2 separate regions of the Homo sapiens genome follow, and region 2 is linked to region 1. The links come from fine-mapping of genetic effects on gene expression. A gene starts in region 1. The other region holds a variant in brackets. All regions are shown on one strand. Distances are from middle to middle. Region 1 holds the start of POLN (DNA polymerase nu). Region 2 overlaps POLN (DNA polymerase nu).

Region 1 (4,381 bases):
GATTATCACAAATAGATGGTGTCTGTATATCTAAAAGTTGAAAATTGTCTTCATTTGAACTTTCAACTACTTCATGTATACCCTGAAAGAACTGTTTTTTGGTATACAAAGTTAATGCTGCTGTGCTTTGCTCTTCCTGACTTAGGTATTTTTCCAAGGAAAATTGCGATAAAAATACCAGTGGATTTGTCCCTTGACCTAAATTAGAATGTCTGAAGAACATCATCAATTGTGTAACTTCATCAGTAAGAGCCTGAAGTTCATTACTGATCTTAGTGATCATTGCATTTAGAATTCCTTGACTCTGCTTCAGCTTTTTAGTGGCTTCTTCTTCTTTAGCATTTAACCTCAGAGATTTGTGGCTAGTTACTGAAGCCATCAATTGACATTTATTACGTCGCTGAATTTTTAGGTTCTTTAATTTCAGTAGAGTTTGAACCTCATCCTCTAATTTCTCCAGCTCTTTATCATCCAGTCTAGGTGTCTTCAAATCAGAAGTTTTACACGTTTTAAGAGCTTCATCCAATGCCGCCCCTTCTAGAATAGGCTTGCCTGATTTCTGAAGAATGCTAAAAGCTTCCAATTCTCTTTCAGACAACACGTTCTGTTCATTCACATTCCCACAAAACCACTTCAGAAACGATTCATCTTCAACGCCCTCAAACAACCAGTCAAAGTCTTCTCCATTAAGATTATCAGCTTTGGGATAACCAATTTTTTTTAATGTTTCCACAAACTCATTTCCACAACTCATGGTTTTAACTACCCCAATTTTGTTGTATCTGATATGGGTTTACGGTGTTGATTTTTAGAAAATAAATCCAAGCAGAAAAAAAGCTACGTTTTATACCAAGTCCACAGAGAAGGGAAAATATATTTTTAGAATCTATAATGATTCCTCCTAGGGGGGAAGAAAACAAGTATTAGACCACAAATATGACGACAGTGTTTTTAAAAAGAAGACACAGACAAATATCACATGATATCCGAGAGCGGGATAAATGACAGGTAGTCGTAGCTGCAATGTTTGATGATGATAAAGAGAAACAGAAACAATTAGGCTAGTTCTCAGAAAACCGCAACAGTAACGAAAAGTAATTAACAAGAAAGTGGATCTATTTGGATCCATTTTATCTTTTTTTCCAAAGATAAAATGGTTTAAAATGCATTACACTTTATAGAGCAGCATTTGTTTTTAATTCAAAATAAATGGATCCAAACAAACCCAAGCCACCAGGAGGCTAGGCAGCCTCTCTTCCCTGCCCTCCGTACGTAAGAAGACGCAAATAAGCATGGCACATCTTCTGAAGATCAACTAAATATTTACCTCAACGTCTCGCCGGGCAAGGCTCCACCTCCAGAGTCCACCACCGCGACGCGGAGAACAGCAGGAGCAGCAGGGAAGCGCGCGGCCACAATTAAGGGTGCTTCGGGCCGGCCTTCAGCCAGCGCTGAGGCAGCCCCGACGCCAGGGCCGCGCGAACCCCAGAGGCAGCGGCAAGCCCCAGGGATCCGCGGCCCCAAGGCCGCGATACACCAGACGCGCCAGCGGCAAAACCTTCCTTCGGAGGGTCACCCAGCTGTGACACCTAAGCACGCTGACAAAACAAACGCACAAGCCCACCGAATCGCCGTCGACACCGAGCTGCAGAAGACGGGGGTGACAGGCCCCGCACAGCCCCCGCCCCAGCTCCTCGCCCAGCGGACCGGGCCCTGATCCCCGGGCAGCTGCTGGAGCACCTGGAAGGAGCCCCCAGGAGCGCAGGAAAAAAAAGAGGCACCTGGGTGCAGACGGGGATCGCGGCCACTCCTCCAGCCCCACACCCCTGCGCCCAGAACCGAGGCCCGCGTCAGTCACCTCAGGAAGTTCCGCTTGCTTCTCGCAGGAGCCCGCCGCCACCGCCCTCCGTGCCCCGCGCGCCTCGCACTGCCTCACGGGAGCGCCTGGACGCGCGCAAGCGCACAAGGCGACGGCGTGGTCGTGGGGGATGACTGTTTGCGCAGGCGTAGTGTCAAAAGAGGCGGAGTCGGCGAGGCTGGACTATGGGGTGGAGCTGAGCAGGCGGCGCTCGGCCCCCGGCCGCTGCGGGCATCCTGCCTCCTGGGCGGGGCGCAGGGCAGAGAGAGGCGGGGTCTGGGCCGGGAAGGGCGGGGACAGGGCCTGGACAGGGGCGGGGCCTGGGCAGGGGGCGGAGCCTGGGCAATGAATGGGGTGCAGAGGGGTGCAGAGGGGTGCGGTGGGGCGCCCTCTGGGGAGCTGAAGCTGCGGGCCTGCTCTCAACGGAGCCGTCAGTTGTGCTTCAGGCCTGCCCTGCCCCGTACTTCAATCTAGACCCTCTGAAGGCACTTTTGAATGGTACAAAGAGCAGCGCAGGTTGGTGGTTGGGAGACAGGCTGGAGCCCGGCGGTGATAGCGCTCGCCCCCGAGAGAGACGAGTTCCCGGAACATTCACAGCAGCCCGACCAATGCCTGGTACATTTTAAGGGTTAGGGATTGTTCGCTTAGAGTCTTTTACAATGAACTTTATTTTGCAAAAACACTTAATTTCTAATCCCTCACCAGAACACTATGTAAAAGCTGACTTCTGGCCGGGCGCGGTGGCTCATGCCTGTAATCCCAGCACTTTGGGAGGCCGGGGGGGGGGGGGGGGGGGATCATGAGGTCAGGAGTTCGAGACCAGCCTGGCCAAGATGGTGAAACCCCATCTCTACTAAAAAATACAAAAATTAGCCGGGCGCGGTGGTGGGCGCCTGTAATCCCAGCGACTCGGGAGGCTGAGGCAGGAGAATCGTTTGAACCCAGGAGGTGGAGGTTGCAGTGAGCCGAGATCACGCCACTGCACTCTAGCCTGGGCGACAGAGCAAGACTCCGTCTCAAAAAAAAAAAAAAAAAAAAAGCTGACTTCCTCCACAATTCCCTTTTCAAAATGTTAGAAATAAACGGAATGGCCTGAGTTAAATACATCGATATATTTAACTCAAGGAGGATGGTACACCATTTCCAAAGAGGATGGCAGTCAGTGAAAGATGACTGAAACGGGATTGCTAAATTTCATGTGAATCTGGCTGATGCCCTACAGCCCAGTGAAACCAGACCTCTCTATTGGACAGAATTCGTTTGCATCTCTACCAAACAAAAATCCTTTGCCACTCCTCAGTCTTCCACAGGTTAGCAGGGGCTTTGGTCATGGGTAAATATAATAGTACTCCCTCCCTTCAGCGTCAAATGACCCTAAAGGTGGCTTGTTAGACAATGTCCTAGTCCAGGGTGACTAGGTAGAAGTCGTTTGGATAGTTTTTCTTAATATTTTTAAGGAGAGAAATAAGAATGTTCTAAGGCAAATATTGTAATCTGATCGAGTCAAAGATATTTCCTATTCATTCTTCACTTGTTTCACGTTTTTTTCCTCCTCTTTTAAAAGTCAATAAGGCCTAAAATGATCTGAAAAACAAACATGATGGGAAAAAATTCAAAGAGTGGTGCCCAATCTGCAGGCAAGGAAACCAGGGATGCTGGAACGGGGAGGCCTGGTGGGAGGACCCTTGCAGCCCAGGGTTGGAGGTTGGGGGTGTGCATCAGGGGGCAGAGTTGAGCCAGTTTGGACAGGAGGAAGTGGGAGCTGTGCAGGCAATGCCTTCCAGAAATGTTGCTGATGAGGCAAAGACTGGGTGGGAGGAGTGTGACACAGAGAGAGAGATACAGAGAGACAGAGAGAGACAGAAACAGAGAGACAGAGACAGAGAGACAGAGACAGAGACAGAGAGACACAGAGAGACAGAGACAGAGAGACAGAGACACAGAGACAGAGACAGAGAGACAGAGACACAGAGAGACAGATAGAGACAGAGACAGACAGAGAGACAGAGACAGACAGAGACACAGAGAGAGAGAGAGAGGAGAAAGACAGAGAGCGAGCATGCAAAACAACACAAGCTGAGGGGGTGGGAATGCAGGGCTGAGGGGAGGATTTTTTATTTTGTTTTGTTTGAAAATGAGAGGAACTCGGGGATATTTATAGACTGCAAGGAGGAACTCTGAGGAGACAGCATTAAAGACGGCAGAAAGACAAGGGGCTCCTTTATAGAAAGAGATCCCTGGAGGGCAGGAGGGGTGCACTCCAGAGCCCTGGAGGCCGTTCTAGAAACCCACTTTCCTAGTGACTCCTGGGTGGTTTCTTGGGCCACAAATTAATTCTCCATCTGATTTTGAATTGCTGACCATAGTTATTTGTTGGAAAGGTGTTTATGAGACCATAAAAGCCATAAAACCATTAAGTAAAAATTACAACAGTATCAGCCCCTGGAGTACAAATGACAAACACAATAGGTTTAACTATACAGATGTGGAAAGTTTTCTTCAGCTTGCCTTGGGAATTTAAGA
Region 2 (4,384 bases), 70 kb before region 1:
TCCCTCCAGTGGAGCATCCTCTGTGGGAGTCCATTATTCACCCAGTAACTGTCCATTAAACCAGCAAAGGCCAAGTGCAGGCACAGTCAACGAGCTCAGGCTCCTTGAGGGCCTGTACTCTAAGACACCCTCACAGGGCGGAGACTGGAGGAACGTGGTGCTGGAGAGGGAATAGGGCCAGAGGAGACATCTTAGAAGGAAACCTTCCTCTGTTACAAAGTCGAATGCTGGACAGAGCACAGAAAGCACAAACTGGAGCCTCAGAAGCTGGTTCTCACCACAGTAACCAATATTCACAATAACATGAATTCACTTATTTACTGACTTCCACTCTGTGTCTTTTCAGTAAAAGCACTCACTGTCTTCTGAATATCGATCTATACTCTCCCACTCCAACACAGCACAATCTCACTACTCCTTGTCTTCAAAAAAAATTGATTCCTCTCAAGAGAGGGGTAGGTAAAATTCTCTAAAATAAATCTGAGGAAAGGAGAAGACTGATGACCCGTTTCTAGTTCCTCTTGGGGACACGAAGCAAAGAGGTTGTGACTGGATTGTCAAGAAATTGGTTTTAAGAACAAAACTCCACCAAATTATGCTTTTCAGGAAGTCAAGCCAATTAACTGCTTCTGCAAAAGTGTACTGTCTGCCTCTCTCCCTTGGTCCATAGCGAGAAAAGCAACCTTGGTGTGGGGAGCCCCTCTTCTGCAGAAACTGCTGCCAGCATGAGGGGACGGCCTGAGAGTCTCGGGTGGGTCTGAAGGTCAGCACACATGTGGTGCAGACATGCTGTCATTCTAAAAAGAAAAAGGATAACTCTGAAACCTTACCACTGCTTCTGATGTAGACGGGTATTTCTGCAACCCCGTTCTGGGGAGACTGTTCCTTTGACTCAGCAGGTGCAGCTTTAACTTGCCAAAGAGGATCTTCAACAAAACAAATTAAACATGGTGAGGGAATCTCACATTTGAGAGAAACAGAACATTACTATAGCAGAGCCCATGCCAACAGCCAGAGAAGACACACCCAAACAGACATTACAACATGCTTAAATTCTCATTTAGTACTTTTCTACAAGTTAAAGGCTTTGAAGTAATGAATCTCAATGTGTTCATTACTTGTGAGAGAACATGAAAAACTTACTTTTCAGATAGTTGACATAAAATAATACTTATAAATTCAAAATAAATCTCCCTTTAACTCCTGAATAAGAAATACATTTTATGAAAGAACCAAAATTCAGCTTTACCTCTCGAAGCTGGTTATTGCTCGTTATAAGAAACCGTTCTCCTGCAACAAAATGAGCTTCTTGCTCCAATTCCTTGAGACGAGCCTGAAAATATGATACACACAATTAATTTCATTCATAGTTTTCACAATTTAAGATTGTTTAATTTGTTCATCAAACAATTCTCAACAGCGAGATGGGCACGGTGGCTTATGCCTGTGATACCAGCCCTTTGGGAGGCTGAGGCAGGAGGATCACTTGAGACCAGGAGTTTGAGACCAGCCTGGGCAACATAGTGCGACCCCACCACTAAAAAAAAAAAAAAAAAAAAAAAATTAGCCAGGCATGGTGGTACACACCTGTGGTCCTAGCTGCTTGGGAGGCTGAGGTGGGAGGATTGTATGAACCCGAGGGTTCAAGGTTGCAGTGAGTTATAACTGTGCCATTGCACTGCAGCCTGTGTGACAGTGAGACACTGTCTCAACAAACAAACACATACACACAAAATTCCCAAAGAAAGCTCTTAAAAGAGTAATAAATAACCTATAATTTATCAAAATAAGCATAAAAATACACACTTTGGCCAGGCACGGTGGTTCACACCGGTGATCCCAGCACTTTGGGAGGCCGAGGCAGGTGGGTGTCTTGAGCCCAGGAGTTTGAGCCCAGCCTGGGCAACATAGTGAGACCTCATCTCTACAAAAAAATAAAAATAAAAATAAACATATTTTGCCTCATGGTGAAATACCTAGGCTCATAGAAGCATCCTCCCCCAAAGGTAAGAAAACAAACTTAAAGTAGTAAAAATAATGGGAAAGAAAGAATCAATTCTCCAACAATATTAAGACTAGAAAAGGGATCCAACATCACATAGAACAAGACAGAGGTAGAAAGTATAGGAAACAGGCTTGTATCCAGAATACATCAGGATATCCTATACATCAGTAAGAAAAAATATAAAAATGGGCAAAAGACTTGAGCAGATCCTTTACAAAAAGAAATTCCTAAAAGCTAATGATGCTATGAAAAGCTAATCGATCCCACTAATGTGAAATGTGACATACAAAAATGATATCACTCTGGTCCAGAGCTCTAAAGTAGAGTCAGGGAGCCATTCTAAGGACTGCCTGCATGACCT[G/C]AAATGCTGAAAAACAAAAACAAAAACAAAAAACAGGAACTTGAATTGAACCTCTGAACTGGGCTCAACTGCAATGACCACAACATCCTGGAAAACAGCTAGATTTTGCCAGTGCTGCACCTTCTGAAGAGCGACAACCAATGAGCTCAACGGACTCATGTACTAAGCCAACCGCCTCCAACAATGATAATTCTTTCACAACAACTGTGTATTCGCCCTTAGCTTCCTTTTAAAAATCTCAACTCCCCTTCCTCTCTTCAGAACACTTATTGGCCTTTAGCTGAACCTGTGTCTCCTGAATTGCAGTTTCTAAGACCCCAGGAATGCCTTGTCTAACTGCTTTGCAGTCTGCTCTTTCACCTCTTCTTGGTTGACATTAGTAATCAGGAAAATAGAAACAAAACTCATAATGAGATATCATTATAGCCTCACCAAAATGGCTACAATGTAAAAGTCTGATGCACCCAGGGGAAGTGAGGATGTGCAAGAATGGGATCCCGTATGCATTCTCATGGGTGAGACTCTGGGAAGCCATTGGGCATTATTGAATAAAACTAAGCAACAGCTTCCCTGTGTCCCAGCAGCACTAGTCACCTCACAGCCCACAGAAACCTGTGCCCACAGGCACAGGGAATGCACTCAGAGGTACAGCGTGGTTTGTAACGACTGCCACTTGGAAACAACCACACGCCTATCGGCAGTGGGACAGAGACACCAAGGGCAGCACAGTCCACAGCGGGAAACTCCACAGCACTGAGTGACACACAGAAACACAGGTGGAGCTGAGATGTAGAAGGCTGGGTAAAAGGCCACACGTAAGTCACTGTTTACTTACAGTTCAAAAGCAAAGCTAAACTACATTGCTTAGGCTTTGAAGTGGGAAAGCTAGAAAGAAAAGCAACGATGAAAAGGCTACAAAAGTCAGGGTTGCAGTTACTTTTGGCAGCAAGAAAGGGGTTCTGATAGGGAAAGCACACAGGACTCTGGAAAGTCTGTGCTTTGAACCAGGTGATGGTTATATTGGGGTTTCCTTTAAACATTTTATTTTAAAGATGCTCCTGGCATGTGCTTTAGCCTTTTTAAAAATTTGTGCAGATGTATGAGGTACATGAGAAAATGTATTACGTGTATATAATGTGTGGTGGTCACGTCAGGGTATTCAGAGCACCCATCATTCAAGTTCAATACCTTTTTGTTAAGTACAGTCATCCTACGCTGCTATCAAACACTGAATTTATTTCTTTTATTTTACTGTATGTTTGCACCCTTTAGCCTGCTTCTCTTCATCTTTGCCCCGCCCCGCCACTGCTCACCCTTCCCAGTCTCTGTGTCTATTTTCCCACTCTCCACCTACATGTGTTTTCTTAAGAAAACTGAAGTAGAGCATTTTTAAGTATTTTTTCATGCATCTTTACACATCTCTGTATTTTTGTTTTTCAAGAAACCCAAGAATTCCTTCACCAAACTACAGGGGACAATGTCCCTGTAAGAAAAACGTAACTTTTGAGGAGGATCCTGAGGAGCCATTAAAGAACTCCCCGGACACACACGCACTAGATGCTGTTTAGGTCTTTTCAATGCTTGGTTCTCCCCTGCAGGCGTCAGAAAGAGGGAGAAACACTGTCAACACCAAACAAGGAAGAGAAGAAAAGGAGAATCTACTCTAGACCTGCCACTGGGAACAACTATCTCATGCAGGAAAGAGATGGCCAGTACAAACCATCTGGAATAATAACTTACCCCAAGAAGTGCTGACGTCTTCTCCATCTCCTCTTTGTTCACCTGAATGGCATGGCTTTCCATCACTGTGATTCGAAACCCAAACCAGATCATATTTGCATTAATGTATTCTTTTTACTAAAGACTAAAATGCTTCGCTCCCTGATGAGGACAATAATGACTGCAACTGCCATTTACTCAGCACCTGCTGCATGCCAACCTCTGCACAGGATCTGTCAGGATCCCTGTGTCATACAGGCAAATGGGCGCATTGACAGAGCTGGCCTTTGAGGTGGGAG

The links. PIP is the estimated chance that this variant, and not a neighbour inherited with it, causes the effect.
Region 2: its variant is the best candidate, but not a certain one, in a credible set for the expression of POLN in whole blood (TOPMed, PIP 0.77).

The regions. Positions count from the first base shown.
Region 1 is chr4:2,240,193-2,244,573 of GRCh38, forward strand. It overlaps POLN (DNA polymerase nu), which reads right to left and starts at 1,929. Exons shown (of 26, transcript NM_181808.4): 1 at 1,859-1,929; 2 at 1,328-1,598. It overlaps HAUS3 (HAUS augmin like complex subunit 3), which reads right to left and starts at 1,929. Exons shown (of 6, transcript NM_001303143.2): 1 at 1,859-1,929; 2 at 1,328-1,598; 3 at 1-901. The coding sequence starts at 754. It also overlaps the pseudogene COX6B1P5. RefSeq lists enhancers at 1,112-1,613, 1,220-1,319 and a silencer at 2,000-2,359.
Region 2 is chr4:2,169,849-2,174,232 of GRCh38, forward strand. It overlaps POLN (DNA polymerase nu), which reads right to left. Exons shown (of 26, transcript NM_181808.4): 11 at 4,107-4,171; 12 at 1,250-1,333; 13 at 831-926. Among named protein-coding and RNA genes, the nearest start is that of HAUS3, 70 kb to the right of the region's middle. RefSeq lists an enhancer at 3,597-4,384. The variant G/C (reference allele first, on the strand shown) is at 2,367.